Linked DNA regions of Homo sapiens: all the other regions are linked to region 1. Evidence: fine-mapped expression QTL. A gene starts in region 1. Each other region holds a variant in brackets. All regions are shown on one strand. Distances are from middle to middle.

The links. PIP is the estimated chance that this variant, and not a neighbour inherited with it, causes the effect. A credible set is the group of variants that fine-mapping cannot tell apart.
Region 2: its variant is the best candidate, but not a certain one, in a credible set for the expression of BASP1 in whole blood (INTERVAL, PIP 0.72).
Region 3: its variant is the best candidate, but not a certain one, in a credible set for the expression of BASP1 in monocytes (TOPMed, PIP 0.57).

Annotation. Positions count from the first base shown.
Region 1 is chr5:17,213,553-17,220,049 of GRCh38, reverse strand. BASP1 (brain abundant membrane attached signal protein 1) reads right to left here and starts at 2,419. Exons shown (of 2, transcript NM_006317.5): 1 at 2,240-2,419. It overlaps BASP1-AS1 (BASP1 antisense RNA 1), which reads left to right and starts at 2,628. Exons shown (of 3, transcript NR_027253.1): 1 at 2,628-3,973. RefSeq lists an enhancer at 519-1,299 and silencers at 1,334-1,653, 2,144-2,623.
Region 2 is chr5:17,440,638-17,447,330 of GRCh38, reverse strand. LINC02217 (long intergenic non-protein coding RNA 2217) reads right to left here. Exons shown (of 2, transcript NR_134275.1): 2 at 5,637-5,862. LINC02218 (long intergenic non-protein coding RNA 2218) reads right to left here and starts at 3,321. Exons shown (of 3, transcript NR_134270.1): 1 at 3,097-3,321. The variant G/A (reference allele first, on the strand shown) is at 3,459.
Region 3 is chr5:17,236,954-17,243,646 of GRCh38, reverse strand. The region is part of intron 1 of BASP1 (brain abundant membrane attached signal protein 1); the gene reads right to left. It also overlaps the pseudogene RNU6-1003P. Among named protein-coding and RNA genes, the nearest start is that of BASP1, 23 kb to the right of the region's middle. The variant A/C (reference allele first, on the strand shown) is at 3,352.

The sequences.
Region 1 (6,497 bases):
ATACACAATAAGTCCCTTTTTGTGTGGTAAAAACAAACTACCTGAAAATAAATCTAAATGGCCATAACCTGGAAAATAGATCATCTGAAAGAAAATCAGCCATCAAAGGTATATCATGGCTTCTGTTAGGTAATGGGGAAAAAGGAATCATTGCGAACCTAATCAACCAGCTTCACCCCAACGACTGCCTTCTTTCTGCCCCCATCAGATTTCCATCTGGACGCCATTCGCCTTTTGGAATCCTTAATGAAACAATGAGTTCGGAGTCCAGAGAAAACAGAAAGGGTTAGGATCCCGACAAGGTAATCGTTTTCTTCTCTCCGGTTTTTGTAGGCCATCTTGTTCGAATAAACGCCAAGATGTCTTAATTTTCCCCAGGTGGTGTCACTGGAGGCAACGCCCACTGACAGTTTTGAGGCCACCTTCCCTTAATCAAATGACCAAAAAAGATCTGTCAAACGGTTAATTGATGCAAATTAAGAAAGCCACCCTCACTGCAGTAAGATATGTTACAGGAAAAAGAACAATGAACAGTACTAGAAAGGAAAATAACAGTGTGCGGGTACAAAATATTTAATCCACAATTTGCCTTCATCCTCATCAAGGCAAATCTTAATTTTGGTCAATTGAAATCAGCAAGAAAGCAAAAGATGAGAGACAGCCTGGAAAAGAAGAAACACACACACAGGCGGGAAAAACTGTCATTGGTGTCCAAGGGTTTCCCGCAACATTTAGGGCAAACGCCTTTGTTCCTCGGCTCGGGAGGGGAGTGGGTGGCTGGATGATGGAGATGGGATGGGGCTGCCGGGCCCTCCACACCCTGCTCTCCGGCGCATGCGCGAGGCCAAGACAAAGGAATAGGTAATTACAGTCCCGATTCATTCATTTTGCCTGCAGTATACTGGGGGTCTGTTGGCCCGGGCTGTAATCCCGGGAGGTGGGGGTGGGGGGTCGGTCCACAACCCTATAGCAGAAGGCCATTTCGACGCTAGTGTTGGGTTTTAGCCCGCCCCACAGTGCGAGTGGCCGCGGGGGAGACAGAGGTGTTGTCAACCTGTACAAGGTCCTAAAAAATGCACCCATGTGTGCTGTGCTAATTTCAGCAGAGTGAGAATTACATGGGCAAGGGCTGTCCACCGAGTTCGTTTCAAGGCGGAAATGTCTCTGGGGACGCAGATAAGGAGCCTGGCCAAGCGTTCGATGAATATTCATGAAAAGAATGCGGTTTGCAGCCGCGCATTGTGCGTGCGATCGGATCCAGGATTCCGCAATTTTTATTTTTCTGGAAATGGAGGGGGGACGGGGGCGGGGGGAGCAGGAACCGGGCGCCGGGTTTCAGCTTTAGCGCTTTGGGCAAAAGCTGCTCAACCCCAACCCTACGCTCCCAGCGGGGCTGAGCCCAGTTAGGGCCGCGCGCTGTCAGGTTCAAGCCCACACCCCCCGGGCCCGGGCCGGGGCCGGGACCCAGGGCGGAGGCGCCTGGCGCATTCTTGGAACCAAAGGCTCGAAAAAACAAACTGCTCCGAGGCAGCCCACGGGTTCGTAGGAAGGCAATTCCGCCACTGACGAGGCTGGGGCTCCGATCTGCTCGGGAGGTGCTTCTGAGTGCACGTCGCCGTGTGAACCTCGTATTCCTTGGCCCCAGAACCAAGATCCAGGAGTCCCATGGGTCGAGAAAACCCGTTTGCCAAAGCAAAAAGCCACCCACTTCCTTCTGATCGGGCCAGATTCCCCATCTTCTTTCTCCCCGGACTCCCGCCCCACCCCACCCCCACCCTCCATCTTTGGCTGCTGCGCCCCTCGCCCCGAGCGCTTTCTCCCAGGCTGGTAAGGGCTCCGATGACGGAAGCGCTCCCTTCAGCCCACAGAACCGTCTCCCCGGGACTCAACGCACTGAGGGGGTTTCGCATTCGGCAATTCCTCCCGTCACCCGCAGCTCCTCTCCCCGACAGCCCCCTCCCCCCAGCTCCGTTTACCAACCTCGCCGCCCCCCTCACCCCTCCACCATGCGAGCGGCTGAAGCCTCCCACTTCTGGGCCCCCCATCACCCGGGATCCCCGAAGTGCGACGGAGCCCTCACAGAGGGACCCCAGGCCCTTGCCGTCCAATCCGGGCCCACATCCCTGCTGCCCGCTGCATGAAGGGAGAGCCCGGGGGCTGCGGGGCGGGGCGCGGCGCGGTGGGGGACGGAGGCCCCCGGGTCCGCGGCGGCGCGGGGCCACCGGGCGCGCCTCCTTACCGGCTCTGGGTGCCTATGCAGCCCCTGAGTTAGCGCGGTGCCGCCGAGAGGCCGGGGTCGCTGGCGTCGTCTGGCTGGTGCCTGGCCGCTGGCGGAGGCTCTCTCCCGGCTCGACGGCGGAGCCCGGAGCGAGGAGCCAGTTGGAGCGCTGCCGCCGCCGTCGTCGCCGCTGCCGCTACTGCCGCCGCCGCCGCCGCTGCAGCCTCTGCATTTCTCGCGCTCGCTCCCCCTCCCCTTCCTGCCCAGTGCCCTCCCCCCGCGCGTCCGCCCGCCCAGCCTCCCTCCTCCCGCGCTCCCCGCCCGCCTCTCTCCCCTCCCTCCAGCCCGGCGCCCCGCCCGTCTCCCCTCCACCCCCTCCAGCTCCATCTCCCCACCCCCTGCACTCCCTCTGCTCCCCTCCCCTCCTCCGGCGCAGACCCTCCCCTCTCCCCTCCAGCCTGGACACGCCCGCCTCCCCTTGACTCCCCCCAGCTCTGGGCCCCCACCTCCCCTCCCCTCCAGCACAGTCACCCCCATTTCTCTCCTATCCGCCATCCTGGTTCCTCCCTTCCCCCCACCTCCCAACTCTGTGCCCCGCCAACGTTTCCTAAATGCCCTCTATTCAGATCCCCCCTCCGCCTCCCCTCTCCTCTCCTCCATTCCTGCGTCCCCCTTCCCCCGCCGCGCCGCCTGGGCTGTCCGTGGACTTCTCCCACTCTCTCACTCTCTCACTCACTCTCTCTCTCTCTCTCTCTCTCTCACTCTCTCTCTCTCTCTCCCCCTCATTTATTTGGAACCGTTGGATAAGAAGTGCTCGGGCTCTCGCTCAGACTTAGGGAGCTGCCTCGAGGTGATGAATGACACCCCCTGGCACCAGCTACCCTTCTCAGACCCCAGTCCAGCCCGCTCCCGACGTCGACTACGATTCCGCTACCTCGGCTGGCAGCGAGGTTGGGGTGAGCCCCAGCTGCAGGCGCGTCTGGGCTGCGCCGCTGCAAACGAGTTGCGCACCTTGGGCGGCTCCGCACCTGCACCCGCACCCGCGGGGCTCAGCCCCGAAGGCTGCAGCTTCGGGGGAGGCGCGGTCGCCGAGGTCCAGCTGGTGGGGCGAGAGACGTCGCCCCTCGGAGGATGCTCTCGGAACTTGGGAGAGGAAGGAGGGAAGAGAAGAGGGGAAAGGGGCCGTCGATGTTTTTGATGTCTGTGCTTTAATGGAGGCCACCAATATTGAGAAGACGGGGTTGGCCGAGGCAGCCCGCACGCTGCTGCTTGCGAGCGCTCGAGTCAAAGCTAGGGCCAACCGCGGCTTGTCCGGGTGCCCTAAGGGGGCGGACACTTGGTTTAGCACCGGGACACAGAATAGCCACCGGGGTAGGAAGATGCGTTCACTTTGCTTACCTGTTGGCAAGAGGGACATACAAAAATAACGTAACGTGACATCGTTGACAACGGTAGCTCTTTGATTACACAAAAGCCAATTTTACCTTCCCGCAAAAGCCAGTTGACGCCTTTGGAACTTTTATTTGCGGCATTTTGGCGCCCTCTGGCTGTGTTTGGATCGCTTTCATGCTCGCCTGCGTCCCAGCCAAGAAAAAATCGATGGAGCTGCAGGTTGTCCTCAGGATGGTTCTGCCCTCAGGACCTGGGCGTGAATTCAGGGACAGGGTGGCCCTCCAGAACCGGAGTGACAAACTGTAACCATACTTAGGGAGGCAGACGTCAAAGGCAAGTACATCTGTATTCAACTGGGTAAAGGTAAGTGCATTTTCACTTAACAGGAAAATTAACTTATCGTAACTTTAACGTACATATTTGAATTAAGCAAAGTGGCAATATTTACTCAACTGCACTAGCGATTTTGCAGTGGAAACACTTGACGACCCTACTGTACACATTTACAGGTCATAGGAGGCAGCACCAAATTAGATTAATGCATGCCAGCTGGAAATGTTCAAATTTAAACCAAAGGTAAGAAAAAAGCGGGAACTGTTTGTTTTTTCCTGTTTCTCTTTCTGCCATTTAAAGTGAAATAAAAAGTTAGTGTAGTAAAATACCAGGGAAGCAAATTACAAATGAGGTTGCTTCTAAAGCATTTTATTCTTTTGAATATTTATTTCCCTCACACCAGTACACCATCTATAAAGCTAAATGGAGGATGCAGGTTTTCCCACCTCCTTTTGGGGCCAGATATTTCTTTGTTGTGGAAGGCTGTCCTATGCACTGTAGGATGTCTGGCATTCATTGCTGGCCTCTACTAGCAGCCAGTACCACCCTCCACACACACCACCAGCACCAGCACCAGTTGTGACAACCAAAAATGTCCCCAGATATCGCCAAATGTCTCCTGGGAGGCAAAATCACTCCAGGCTGAAAACCACTGAGCTACATTTTCTTTCAACCTCTATGAGCAAGTCTCTAGGTTTTTACCCTATCGAATTAGATGAATATTTGCAATGTTCTGCTCAAGACATTTCCTGAGTTTGTTAGAGGAGCTGCCTACTTGTTCATTTAGCATTCAGGGTTTTTATCCTTGTGATCTTCCAGGCATGTAAATCATCTAAAAATTAGCAAATACATTTCCTCATTGTATTTGCAGTCTAAGCCTGTGGGTGTTATCTTCCTTCTCTATTCTCTTTTTCCAATTTTTCCAAAAAAAAAAGACAACATAAAAATTAATGTTCAGTACCTTCAGTGCTTCCAGCTAAATTTTCATGATGGAGAAAACAAACCTTTCAAAGGTGTGATTGGAATACAGATCACGGGTTACCATAGAAACCGGAGGCAAAAGCTTACACCAACAAGGAGAACTGCAGGTCTCCTTAATTTTGTCTTCCATCAGATTTAGTTGTTCTCTTAAAACATTTTTTTAAATTTTTTTAAAGGAGGGTGAGAATTCATTTTCAATGAGATAATGATGCAACTGACTGATAGTGCTATTAATCTTTAGAAGCTTTTACAGAATTTGTAGGTTTGCAGCAAATGGTTGCCAAAATGTTACCTCTCAATGTAACAATATTACTATATAAAATCCAATTTGGCGATGTTTTTAGTCTAATTTTTAGTTGTTCATCTAATATCATACTTTTTAATGTGTATGCTCTTTAAAACATTTTTTTAAACTGATGCTTAGGGAATAAATGAATAAACCTTTAAAGTTCTGAATTTTAGAAAACTGTTAACATTAACTATTGTGAATGTGTCTGTTTACATTATAGACTAATGATCTTGAGAACAAATATTAAGGGTGTAATTTATGATAAATTTAATTAGCTTTCACCATTATGCTCATGAAAAAAAGACTGTTTTACTCTCCAAATGGAATGAATGCATTTGTTTTTGACAAACAAAGCTGGATTTCATCGGTTATAAACTGAATTCCATTGTCATTTTTAATTGCCTGCATAACTTGCTCCAGGGAAGCATAACCTGCATTATGAAAATCATTATCCAAAAGATAAATTATTCGTGATTACTAATTTTTTTCTAAAAGATTTGTCTTTGCTTGCAATATAATGGTCTCATTGTCATTTAAATTACTAGTCAGTTTACAAAAATTTCCATGTGCCTTCAGCTTTTCAAATCATATCTATTGTGTCAACTAAGACACCTACAATAGATAATTATACAGACCTCATCAAGCCTCAAAACCTCACTCTTATCTTCCCTCTCCCCACCTCCCACATCACCCACCAAGGCCTAGCGTCTTTCTCAGTTCCCCATCCTTTCCTCTTAAATAGTAAAAAGAGGATTAAAATCTCAAATAAAAGATGTAGAACAAGAATGAAGCAGAAGCATGGTGACAGTAGTGTCACCCGAGTGTGACTCTAGCCACCTTTGCTTGACATCTTTCTGGATAGTTCCTGTTCAAGGCCACTGCATTAACCCAAACCCTCAGAAACCCATTTAGAGAATTTGAAAGTAAATTCAGCTCTACTGGTAAGTTTTCCGTGGAGGACCAACTTGCTGCAATTTGTTTACAAAATCTTATCTGCAAATTGCAAGCAAAAGGCCAGACAGTATTACAGATGAAAGTGTACGGCTTTTTTTCTCTTAAATATATTTATAATTTTTTAACCAAAGGAAAATATTGAAATCTATATATTCGTCTGTCTTCCTTCCTACCCCAACCCTACCCAACCCCACGAGAGTCATTCTGGGCCAAAATGTCAATAATGGCAAGGTTGAGAAACCCAGGTTTAAATGAGCATCAAGTTGCTGCCCAGTTGGAAAATACCTGATCTTTTTTTTTTTTTTTTTTCTAAGAGCGCATGCTGCAGAG
Region 2 (6,693 bases), 230 kb before region 1:
TCTCGACTTCACTGAAACCCACTGTCCCCTAAGGATACTGCTTCTCCTCTCAAGCAGGGGCTGGGAGATATTTTCCATCAAACTCCAAATATCTCAGTATCAGAACCAAGGCAACGTCCTCCTGACTACCCAATGCCACTTGCAGACGAATGACTGCACTCTCTTTTGTAAGTTGCTCCTTTGAGTAGTTGACAATAAGAGCTTCTTCTCCCTCTAGTCCTCACTTAATCATTTGGTCACTCCTTAAAGAATTTAGCACTCAACTCATAGTCTCCTTTTCACCCAACCCTACCATCATGCTAAGCAGATTTAACATCACTTGGATGCACCATCAACACCTTGCCCAGCAGTTCCTTACCCTGATACCCACTGATAGTTGTCATCATTCACCTCAAGCACCAACTTCCACAGTCACACCATGAATTTGGTTAACATTGGAAACTGCACTTCAGATAATTCTGCAATAATATAAATACCTTCACAAACACCACCACCACCATCTTCAACTTCCCTTTCCAATGGCCTTGTTTTCGTCCCCTCATACAACACTTCTACCTATCAAGAACTGCAATCCAGTGACACTTCAACTTTCTCTACATTCATCAGCCTCCTCAGCTCTCCACATCTCTCCATCAGTACAATGTCACCTCCCTCCCCCGTGTCCACCTCCAACTCCTGGCTTCGTATTTTATCTGGCCTATTCCTATTCATCCTTACTCGTACCGCTTTCTTAGAAAGGGGCTATCCAGACTTCTAAGCTAGATGATGTTCTTCTGTTAAGCCACCTTGTAAGTTCTTTGTGCTTTTCTTAGCTATTATTCAAGCACAACAATGATCATATTGCAATTAATGTCATTGTGGATTTGAACATGGAAGGTCTATTTTATCCTAGATTGTAAATTGGTTAAGAGCAGAGATCATGACTGTTTTACTCTCAATTACATATGTCAACTAACACCATGCCTGGCACATAGAAGGCACTCTAGGAATATATGTGGAGTCACACACACACATACACATACTTATGCATACACACTCATACACTTACCCATGAAGATTTCTTCCAGTAAATGGGTATCTGTATTATGCAAGCAACATGAAATCAGAAAGAACATTTTGGGGTTTTTGCTGCCTAACACCAAAACTAATTGCAGCCACTCTTCAAAAAAATGCAATAACTTTATAAACAGCCACATCCTGATTCTTACGGTTGAAAGCTCTCCATTCTCTGCTGAATATTCATCCGTTGAGAGGGACACTAGCCTAGAAGCTCAGCACTTTCTGAAAAGAGAAGCAGCAGGAATAGAAGATGTGTGGAGAGGAAAGAAAGTCAAAGGCAGGCTCCTGCAATGCAAAGGTGCCAGGAACAACGGTGCAATCCCAGGCTGTGTAACACAGGATGGAGGAGGGAGATCTCACTTTTATTGTAAATAGCAGAATTCTTTAAAGGTAGCTACATTAGCAATCAGATCTCATAGATGCTGGAAACACAAACACCTCCTTTCTCATTAAGGGTAGGGGGATCCAGCATAATTTCTCTGGACCAGGAAGATGGAGGAGTCTTACTTCTCTTGCCTTCCAACTGCATCCCCCACTCAATCCTAGATTGCACAAGGAAGTCAACACTACCTCCCCCAACAAGCTCCAAATCCCTCTCTTCACAGCATTGTCAATTGAATCTCTTCATCCAATCTTGGAAACAGTCTGGAAAAAGAAGCAGAGGAGAGAAGAAAGGGGAAAAGTTCAAAAGTACTTTAAACTCTGCCAAAAAAAATCAATTAGTACCAATATACACAGAGAAATGAATGACAGAAGTCATCGCAGCAAGGTATTTCCTCATGACTCCTTCAACTGGCCAGGGCCAAACCAAGGTGTGCAAATAATCTGAGCAACTGTACACTTTGGCACACCTTTGCTATGTATACATACCTTCAATATGTATTTACAGAAGCTGGAAATTGCACAGGGCAGGACCAGGAAAGAACGGGCAGAAATGTTCAACTGCATGGCCAATGTCCTGAGCTTTAGCCCCAGAGTTGTGTGTCCTACTCTGAAGCCCTACAAGTCATAGGACCCATTCACCCCAGAGCCAGTGCAGCCTATTTCTTTGAGATCTCAGTCCCATCTCTCTAATGGTATCAAAGAACCCTCCATTTACATTTAGTGCTCTCTTTGAAAGGAGCCATGATAGACTTTAATCCAAATTTACAAAAAGAAAAACTGGATTCCAAAGAACGATATAATTAGCATAAATACTGGGACTACACACTGCCACATAATAAAACAGAAAGCATCAAAATATATAATTGTGTATAGCACCTATACACTAGCATAGGTCAAACAGCTGAATGATTAAAGGAGTTTTGTTTTGTTTTGTTTTAATCAGTCAACTAGGAACTTCTTAATGCAGTCACTTTGGCATGATACAAACAAAATCTTTCAAACTACAACACATCTTAGAAACAGCAAATACTACTGCTGTTCACGTAGCAAGGAAGGTTACAAGTAAATCTCCCAATATCTCAGGTGTAAAGAAGTGTTCTAACAAGGTCCATTTGTATTAAATCAAATCACCAGACTAAGGCATCTATTTTGCACCACTTACTCAGAGCAACAGACAAAAAGACAGGCCTTTGGGTTTATTTATATAAACATTCTTCCACAGGTAGTCACAGAGGAGGAAGGAGTACAATGTAATTTGATGGTGGATGAATTTGCACAAAAAGGAGACTAAAAAAGAAAGATTATTGTGACCCAACACTCACTCTTTACTTTTTAAAGTTGTGGGGAAAAGAAATGGCAAAGCTTTCTATTTCTGTAAGCTTTTGTTGTAAAGAATTGAATAAAAAATAGCAATACCTAATCATCTCTAAATTACTTCAACTAAAAACACCACTAAAGACCTTATAATCTTTTTTTAAAAAATTCATTCTCATAATTTCTTCCTTGGCCCTGAAAACGATGGTTTAAAAATAGCTTGATTTGCATCTTATTCTTTTACTGCCTTTCTACAAATACATTTTGAAATGCTTGCTTACGGAAAAGCTGTTGCCTGCTTAGCTTTCATCATGTATGAGATCACACTATTTCGCTCACCTGGAACTGTCGTGTTCTCTGTTCCCAGCAACGGTCCGATAAGGAGCATCCTTGCTAAATGATATGTTTAAAGTATGTATAGCTACGTGTATTTTCAAATGCATAACCAATTTCTTAAAAGAGATGGTAACTCATGCCAGAAGCAAGGAAAAGATTGAAAGGCAGGCCTGGAAACAGAGCTGGCCCAGTAGCAGCTCCAAATATGTCAAAATGCTAGTGTTATTTAAGACACCGATACAATATCCCTGATGATGAAACAGGAAACGTTCCCTTGCGCCACCCGCAGGGTGTGCAACAGGAGGAGTGGCTCGCTTCTTCCGTGCCCCACTGCTCAAACCTCTAGGGGAGCATGCGGACGGCTG[G/A]GTTGTGGGGCTCCAACCCAAGAGCAGTGTCTAGGGGTGAATGTTTACAGCTGAAGCCCCAGTGGGCACACGTGTGTTACAGGGTGCTCTTTTAGTTTTGCCATCTGTAGGCGACTTGTGTTAGTCAGCTCAATTAGACCCCCTGGCTTATCTCAAGGACAGAGGACTTTCTGTATCCCAGGGTCCTTGCCTTGGTGTACCGGAAGAATCAGATCACACGTGGGCTTGGAGAATGAGTTCAAGGTTTTATTGAGAGGAAGTAGCTGTGAGCAGACAGGGGAGACAGAAGGGAGATGGAGTGGGAAGGTGTAGTTTCCTGGAGTCAGGCCACCTAGCGGCCTGGCTCTCCTCCAACCACGCAGCCAAACTCCATGTCCTTCCGCCAGTCGATGGCCTGCCAGGGTCTGCCTGTCGGCGTGCTCTTGTTGACGTCCTCTGGACGTCCAGCCGCTTGTGTGAGTGCCCACTAGTGTTTCGGGGTTTTTATAGGCACAGGATGGGGGCGTGGTGGGCCAGGGTGGTCTTGGGAAATGCAACATTTGGGCGCAAAGGCAGGAGTGCCTGCCCTTACCTAGGTCTGTGGGCACAGGCACCGGGGTGAAGCCCTCGCCAGAGACCTGCTTTCTCCTCCCAGCACTTCCCTGCCCCCCTCCCTTATCAATAACATCTGCATTTGTAGCTGGGTAACCAGGGTATTCTTCATACAGCTGCAAGTATCTGGCTAATATATTGATAGGGTTTGGATCTGTGTCCAGGCCCAAATCTCACGTTGAATTGTAATCCCAGTGTTGGGGGTAGGGCCTGGTGAGAGGTGATTGGATCATGGAGGAGGATTTCTCATGAATGGTTTAGGACCATCCCTTTGGTGCTGACGGCAAGACAGTGAGTGAATTCTCAAGAGAGAGTTCTGGTTGTTTAAGAGTGTGTGGCACCTTGCTCGCTCTCTCTTTCTTGCTCCTGCTTCAGTCACATGAGGTGCCTGCTCTCATTTCACCTTCCACCATGAGTCAAAGTTCCCTGAAGCCTCCACAGAAGTAGACCCAATATGTTTCCTGTACAGCCTGCAGAACCGTGAGCCAATTAAAGCTCCTTTCTTATAAATTACACAGTCTCAGGTATTTCTTTATAGCAATGCCAGAACAGCCTAATACATACATTATGTCTTCAAGTGGGGGTGAAGACATGCTGAACATTTACTTCTTGAAATATCCACTATATGATAGTCAGGGTGTTGTATGTTTAAAGCATGTATGTGTATAGCTTACGTTATTAAAAATTATTGTTTTAGAATAGAAAAAGGAAGAGTGATAAAATATTAGGCTGAACCATATGAAATTGCTGATATTTTATAACTTTTAGTCAACAAAATTCTCAAATGAGAGCTTTGGGTCCAATAAGTTTGCTTTGCCCCAGGCAACTTGCCCCACTAGTGTAATTCGGGGTCAAGCCATGTGCAAGACTATCAGACAGTTTGCACATCCAAGCATGACCACTCCATGCTCTATTATGCTAAGACAGTCTCTGTAACTTTTCTGCTTTGAGTTAAGTTACATAAGTCCTCTTTCTGTTACCCAACATTTGTGGGTGCCAGGTCCCTGAAAGGAAGCTATAGGAGCAGGTAAAAATTCTTTCCATATTTATTTGTGTGGAATTTTTACTTTTTGACTGTATACCAGATGTAAGGAAGTGTTCTTGCTCTAGGGCCATCTGTCATTGCAGAGGTAGGATAGATTCACATAATGATAGAGTAGAAAAAAATAAGTAAAGTGACCCAGGTTTAAATCCTGTCACCTGCTGTTATTGGTTGTGTTTCACTTCTTGACCTACAGAATCCTTGTCTATAAAACTGAACTGGGGACCGTGCCTAGTCATGTAAGTTCATTGTAAAATTCAAACAAAACAAAGTCTGTCAAGGATTTTGAAATGCCAAGATACAACCATGTGATCAGGGAAATTTACATAAAGAACAGAGTTGGGATCATGATATTAGAAAAACCAGAGAGCGATCGGACACAATGGTTCACACCTATAATCCCAGCACTTTGGGAGGCCAAGGCAGGTGGATTGCTTGAGTCCAGGAATTCAAGACCAGCCTGGGCAACAAAGCAAGACCTTATCTTTACAAAAAAAAAATATTAAAAAAAAAAAAAACAGACAGAAAACTAGAGTGGGCCAAAGTTAAGGGCTCTAGAAGTTCAATTCCAAAAGGAATATTTATTCAGAACGCATCAAAGGGTCTACTGGAATTGGAAACACAGTCATCATTCTTAAGGATAAGAACAGCCAATTCCTTAGATGCAGGTCTTCTGAGTCAGTGGACTCCACACTCCTGGGCTTGCATCCAGATTATCATCGACTTCTGTACTGATGCTTGCAGGGGAGGCTCCGTGGACTCCCTGTATATCTGGACACACAGAAAAAAAGGACAGTCAAGTTTTTCATGTTGGACAGTAAGAATTTAATTTGTAATCTCTATTTGTCACATATGTCCATACTTTTCTTTGTGATAGTCTCATCTGAAGCTTCTGGAAAAATAGGGGAAGATCTTATGGACTGTTAGGTTGGAAGAACATAGCTGCCCAAGGCTTCTTAAAAGTTGACCCTAAGGGGACTTGTGGTTATAAATAGAATGCCGTTAGTTGCAGGAGAATACAATCCTGTTAGACTAACTAAAAACGACAAATTAATTGCAAAAAAAATCCATATAAAGAGATCAGTGAATTATGGAAACAAAAAGAATTAAAAGAACAAAAATTCCAGAGAGCAGAGTGTTTTGCCAAGATTAGCTACCTTTCACAGGCTATTTTCTTTCTTGGGATGTTTGCTGATTTGAAACACAGATCAGATCTGGTTCATGCAGAAGCACTGTAGGAAGGAAAGAGAAGCCAGCAAAGCTTGTGGCATTCATAGAAGCAACCACAACAATTTGGAAACAAAAGTATCCCCAAATGCCTTGCCAATTTTCCTCATAGTACCCTTGCTAAATTGAGGCTGAGTAAAAGGTTAGGAGTTTCTGCAAAGTAAGTTAAAATCTTCAGAAGTCCCATAATAATTGGGAGGAAAAGTTCCACTGGAGGAAAGGAGTCTGCTCAGAAGGTGGCTGGTCTCCCCAAGATTCTCATCAAATTTGGATGGAGCATACGGCAGGATACTACACAGCCCGAAACTTCCACTTTCTTTCAGAGCTGTCAATCAACAGTGTGGAAGAGACAGGCCTGAGGAATAAAAACATAGC
Region 3 (6,693 bases), 23 kb before region 1:
ATGTGTTGTGAATGCTATAAAGGAAACAGAGATCTAGATTAGAACAGGCAGGAGAATGGCAGGAACAGCCAACCCTTATGGAGACATTACTCTGTGCCTGGCCAATCCTCACCTTTTGCTAATTCATAGCAAGAGGCAGACATCAATAGTGTCAAGTTAGACACCGGAAACTGAAGTTAAGAAGGTTGGAGGGAGCCGGGCGTGGTGGCTCATGCCTGTAACCCCAGCACTTTGGGAGGCCAAGGCAGGCAAATCATCTGAGGTCAGGACTTCGAGACTAGCCTGGCCAACGTGGCGAAACCCTGTCTCTACTAAAAATACAAAAATCAGCTGGACGTGGTGGTACGCACCACGCCCATAGTCCCAGCTACTCGGGGGGTTAAGGCACAAGAATTGCTTGAACCCAGAAAGTGGAGGTTGCAGTGAGTCAAGATCGCGGCCCTGCACTCCAGCCTGGGCGACAGAATGAGACTCCCTCTTAAAAAAAAAAAAAAGCAAGAATTTAAGTCTCAGTGGCTTTATCATGATGCCCTTTTGTCACCTAGCATGTTAGCATGTCAACTTGCTGGGGGCAACAGACTACAGGTGTTCCAGAATGTTCCATTTCCCTTTACACACATGATCTGGTTTCATACCCAGATTTTCAGAAAGGCACAGACTTACAGGGACGACAACACTTAAAAAACATTTTACAAGCACATGTTCACTTATTTCAAGACATGTCCTCCCTGCCCCCAAACACAAAGAAATCCTTTTAGAAGGAAAAAAAAATGCTTACGATTACCTTTTTTTTTTTTTAAACTGAGTTGACTTTTTTTTTCCTAGACTTACTTCGACTCCTCAAGGACATTAGCACGCAGAGCAAGGATGTACCGTTACAAATAACATCATTTTCTGTTGTTTAAAGTTATAACACAAAGCATTACAGATACTTTAAACAGATTATTAATAAGCACAATGATGTAACAAATGCACTTACGATCATTTAATCCCCCTTAAATTAAAATAAGAAGCCCTGACTTGAGCATTTATAAAGAGATAAAATTATGCTACTCTAATTGGAGATACGTGTCATTATAAATTTGTCCAAACTCACAGAAGGTACAACACCAAGAGGGAACCCTAATGTAAACAAAGGACTTTGGGTGACAATGATGTGTCAATGCAAGTTTATCAATTGTGACAGACGTATTCTGCTGGGGGATGTTGATAATGAGGGAAACTATGCATGGGGTGGGGGGCGGCGCAAGACTTATATGGGAAACCTCCGTACCTTCCACTCAATTTCGTGTGAACATGAAACTGATCTAACAAATAAAGTCGAACAAAAAAGAGAAATAAAACCACAGGACCATTCTCACCCGCACTCATCACAGGTATATATATACAAAAACTTCTACTATTTCTTGCATTTTAATAACAACTGAGTCATTGATCAAATTTAAATGAAAACAGGAGTTACACATTCACTATGGTTGAGAGTAATTGCTAAAACTATTAATGGTGCATCAAAGAACGCCTTCCTAGTCGAAGGAGGGGAATGAAAGGAGAGCATGATTTCACCCCTTCCTCAGCCAATCAAGAAAGCATACAGAATAGACGTGAATGAGAGAGGTGTTTTCTTTTAGAGATATCCATTCACCCTTAAAATGTGGGACACTCGCATTTTGTAGAGACACAGTGCAGTTCAGTATCTCGGTTGAGAGTTCCTTCCTTCCCCCATTTAATTAAATGCTGAAGTTTGTGTTTCAGAAAGCCCTGAGTTTGCGTGCCAGCTCCACGTACTTGTTTTGCAGCCTTGTCCTTAAATCCTGCAGCTCTTGGTTGGAGCTTCTGTTTTGTTCCTGTGAACTGTCCCCACAGGTCTGACTCCTGCAGAGCACAGTTGAAGGGACAGGAGAGAACATCGAGGGACACCCATGGTGGCACACACTGGCTCACTCCAGTTCCTGCACAGATCTACGAAAGCTTCAGGGCCTCGTTCACTCCCAGCAAATGCAGCAAATATACAGCACTTAAAGAAGTCACAGGAACATTACTCAAACTGGAAGCAAAACAATAATTTTCTTGTTGACTGATATGCTTCCAGCAAATGAGAGACATGCAACATGAACTAAGATGTTCTGGGTTACACTGGCTACGTAACCTATTATTAATTTCTCTGTGCCACAGTTTCTTCATTTGTACAATGGGATAATAATAGAATCCACCCCACCTAGCTGCTGTATTTTAAAATGTCAATCTTTGGGCCAGGCGCAGTGGTTCACTCCTGTAATCACAACACTTTGGGAAGCTGAGGCAGGCAGATCACTTGAGGCCTGGAGTTCAAGACCATCCTGGCCAACATGGCGAAACCCCATCTCTACTAAAAACACAAAAATTAGCCGGGACTGGTGGTACATGTCTATAATCCCAGCTACTCAGGAGGCTGAGGCACAAGAATCGCTTGAATCTGAGAGGTGGGAGTTGCAGTGAGGCGAGATCACATCACTGCACTCCAGCCTGGGCAACAGAGCAAAACTCGGCCTCAAGAAAAAAAAAAAAAAAAGGAAAATGTCAATCTGTGTAAAGCTTAGAATGTGGCCTGCCTGGCACATGCTAAGCACTAGGCAAGCCTGTGCTCACCAGACTACAAGGTGTTATTTTGTAATGTTATAATTAAAAGAAACTATTAAATATTTTTAAATGCCATTGCAAAAATAAATCTTTGCCTAGTTTTGCCTTCTCTGTAACGATGGTTTTATGTTTCCAACTTAAGATCAAAATCACAAGAGTTTTATCTTTTTGTTTAGTAGGTACCCTAACAAAATACCTTAGATTGGGTAATTTATAAAGAATCAATACTTACTTCTCACAGTTCTGTAGGTTGGGAAGTCCAAGATCAAAGACAAAAGGGGACTAGGGCACTCCCTTCAACTTTTTTATTTTCCAAAATATATGGAATGCTTCACAAATTTGCACTGTCATTCTTGCATAGCAGCCATGTTCATCTCTATATGGTTCCAATTTTAGTATATGTGCTGATGAAGTGGGCACATTATTTCTCTTTTTTTAAAGAGTCAGAACCTCACTCTGTTTTTTATTTTATTATTTTATTTTACTTTATTTTATTGAGAGGAGTCTCACTCTGTCACCCAGGCTGAAGTGCAATGGCGCAATCTCAGCTCACTTCAACCTCTGCCTCCCAGATTCAAGTGATTCTCCTGCCTCAGCCTCCTGAGGAGCTGCAATCACAGGTGCCCGCCACCACGCCCAGCTAATTTTTGTATTTTTCAGTAGAGACAGGATTTCACCATGTTGGCCAGGCTGGTTTCAAACTTCTGACCTCAGGTGATCTGCCTACATCGGCCT[A/C]CCAAAGTGCTGGGATTACAGGCGTGAGCCACCATGCCCGGCCAGAGCCTCACTCTGTTGCCCAGGATGGAGTGCAGTGGCATGATCACGGCTCACCCCAGCTTCAAACTCCTGGGCTCCAACCTGTTATTTATTTATTTATTTATTTATTTATTTATTTATCTTTATTTTTATTTTTTTCCCAACATGTTCTATAAGAGCACTAATCCCATTAGTGAAGGTGGAATAATCATGACCTCGACATTTCCCAAAAGGCCCCAGCTCTTACTTAATACCATCACACTGGGCATTAGGTTCCAACGTAGGAATTTTGGTGGAACACATATATTCAAACCATAGCATAGGGTCACTTTAAAATTACATCTCTATAAACAGTTCTGACTACAAAACTAGACAAATGAAAAGAAGCAACACCTCCATGCTACCAGGATAAAATTTCCAAAGACCTCATTACAACGGTTACCAGCAAAGAGGATTTTGAATTAGTACAAATTCACAGATTTTGGGGGTAATCTGGACTAAAAGAGTTCTACTTCACTAATTTAAGCCTGTGTTTTCAAATGAAGGGCAGTATCACATGCAAATACAACACATATATCCAAATTCCTAACTGGGTCCTAACTAGGATCAGCTTTACTTTGCAAGGCTCTAGAACAAAGATAACCAAAGTTGTATTACAAGATTGACAGCCTAGGGTATTTAAACACATCCTGACATTGACACCAAGACCCCAGGGTGAGTGTGGGGTCAACGGTTATAACCAAAAATATGGCCTTCTGTTCCATGTACTAACACACTGATCTGTTTTATTTAGATACTGAGTTTAGTAACCTCAAGAATTATTTACCGTAGTGAATAGGGAGAATTTCCACATTTGCCAAGGCTTTCTTTACGAAAGAGCTGGGCCGGGTGCAGTGGCTCACACCTGTAATCCCCGCACTTTGGGAGGCTGAGGCGGGCGGATCACAAGGTCAGGAGATCGAGACCATCCTGGCTAACATGGTGAAACCCCGTCTCTACTGAAAATACAAAAAATTAGCCAGATATGGTGGCGGGCACCTGTAGTCCCAGCTACTCAGGAGGCTGAGGCAGGAGAATCACTTGAACCCGGGAGGCAGAGGTTGCAGTGAGCTGAGATCATGCCACTGCACTCCAGCCTGGGTGACAGAGCGAGACTCCATCTCAAAAAAGAAAAAAAAAACAGCTGAAGACAGGATGTAAGATTTAGTCAAGTGTTGATTGATATCAAGTAAGGAAGGGAATTGTGTGGTTTTATTCCCCAGCTATTGGATGAACTAAACTGAGCTGACTTCTTACAGGGCTAACATGAGCAAGCACTGAACCAACTGTCCTTTCCTACCCGTTGATCAGACAGCTGGGAAGTCCTCTTGAAGGGAAAGATATTAAAATTTACTGAAGATAACCAAAGTTGAACGGAAAACAGATGATTAATAACTGACACTCAAAAAGAACATTCCACACATTCTTTGAAAACGCATGGAGTCATATCAATATTTAAATACAGTTCACTATGAGTCATGTTTAAATAGTCATATAATTGATGCCATACATCAGATATTTATCAGAAAGCATGAACCATTCGTGGTGCTGGAAAAGAAGATGACAAACTAGGGAAGAGATGGCAGGAGATGAAGGGGAAAAGTAGGTCAGGTTCAGATTTGGAATGAATGCGGTGATGCCTCAGTACATTCAGATGAGACTATCTGGGGATCAGGCGAGCATTTTTATCCCAGCTTCCATGGTTTCCACAGAGCACTTGCATCAAATGCTAGACACACAATACTAAAGGTTTCTCCTCACTGTTCTGAAGCTTGACGTTAGTCTCCATTAACACTTAACTACAGGTTTCATCAAATAGACGTCAAATTATTTCCAAGATAAACATCAGTAGGTGTTAGTTGAAAGGGAGGGGAGGGAGACTCAGCTTCTTCTGTTTCTTTTAAGTTTTATTTTGGTTTCGATAAAAAAAAAACTCAGATAGCCAGCTACGTAGAATGAATTGACTGAACAGTGACCACTTTTCCTGCATAAGACAGCTGAGATGAGGAAGACAACCAAATGAATCTGGAAGATTTCAAAGAAAATGTCCAGTGCTGTACTGAAAAAAAGAGGGTAGTTTAAATAGAAAAAATATATTAATAGAAAGGCACCGAGACAAACAAGTCACAAACCAAATAAAGTGTCAATAGGAGTGCCAATCAAACTGTGTATATCCATCCAAAAGAGAGAAGGCCACTGAGAACAAGAATCCCCCAAATAAGCATTTATGTAATTAAACAGCCTCTTAACATACGTTGTGTTTCATACATGCTTGGCGAACACTGAGAACTACAGGTAATCTTACTTTAGAAAGCAATGTCAGGGGGCCGGACACAGTGGCTCATGCCTGTAATCCCAGCACTTTGGGAGGCCGACGTGGGTGGATCACTTGAGGTGAGGAATTCAAGACAAGCCTGGCCAACATGGTGAAACACTGTCTCTACTAAAAATTCAAAAATTAGCCAGGCATGGTGGTGCATGCCTGTAGTCCCAGCTACTCGGGAGGTGGAGGCAGGAGATTCACTTGAACCCAAGAGGTGGAGGTTACAGTGAGCCACTGCACTACAGCCTGAGTGGCAGAGCGAGACTCCATCACGGAAAAAAAAAAAAAAAAGCAATGTCAGGGGACACTCACCTAGCAAGAACCAGATTATAGAACCTGTTTAAGCATCTTATTTCCAGAGACCTGTAATGTGTGCAAGCTCAACTATAGATTTAGGCAATTTTCTTTCTTCAAAATGAGCCATACCGAAGTCACTAATGTTAAGAACAGGTTCTCAGTCTGTGCTTTAATCCAGAAAAGCATTCTGGGTGAGCTCAGTGAGAGTTCTTTGGGTCCTTCATTAGATAGCCTTATCACCTTTCTTTCTTTTTTTTGTTTTGTTTTGTTTTGAGACGGAGTCTCGCTGTGTCGCCCAGGCTGGAGTGCAGTGGTGCGATCTCGGCTCACTGCAAGCTCCGCCTCCCGGGTTCACGCCATTCTCCTGCCTCAGCCTCCCAAGTAGCTGGGACTACAGGCGCCCACCACCACGCCCAGCTAATTTTTTGTATTTTTAGTAGAGACAGGTTTTCACGTGTTAGCCAGGATGGTCTGGATCTCCTAACCTCGTGATCCGCCCACCTCGACCTCCCAAAGTGCTGCAATTACAGGCGTGAGCCACCATGCCCAGCCACCTTATCACCTTTCTTTACAATACCTCCATCAAGAATTCTTGGTTGTTTACTACCCGGTGGGCTGGTAGATTTCATTAGCTTTCAAAGTATACAGAAAAATCTCAGCTT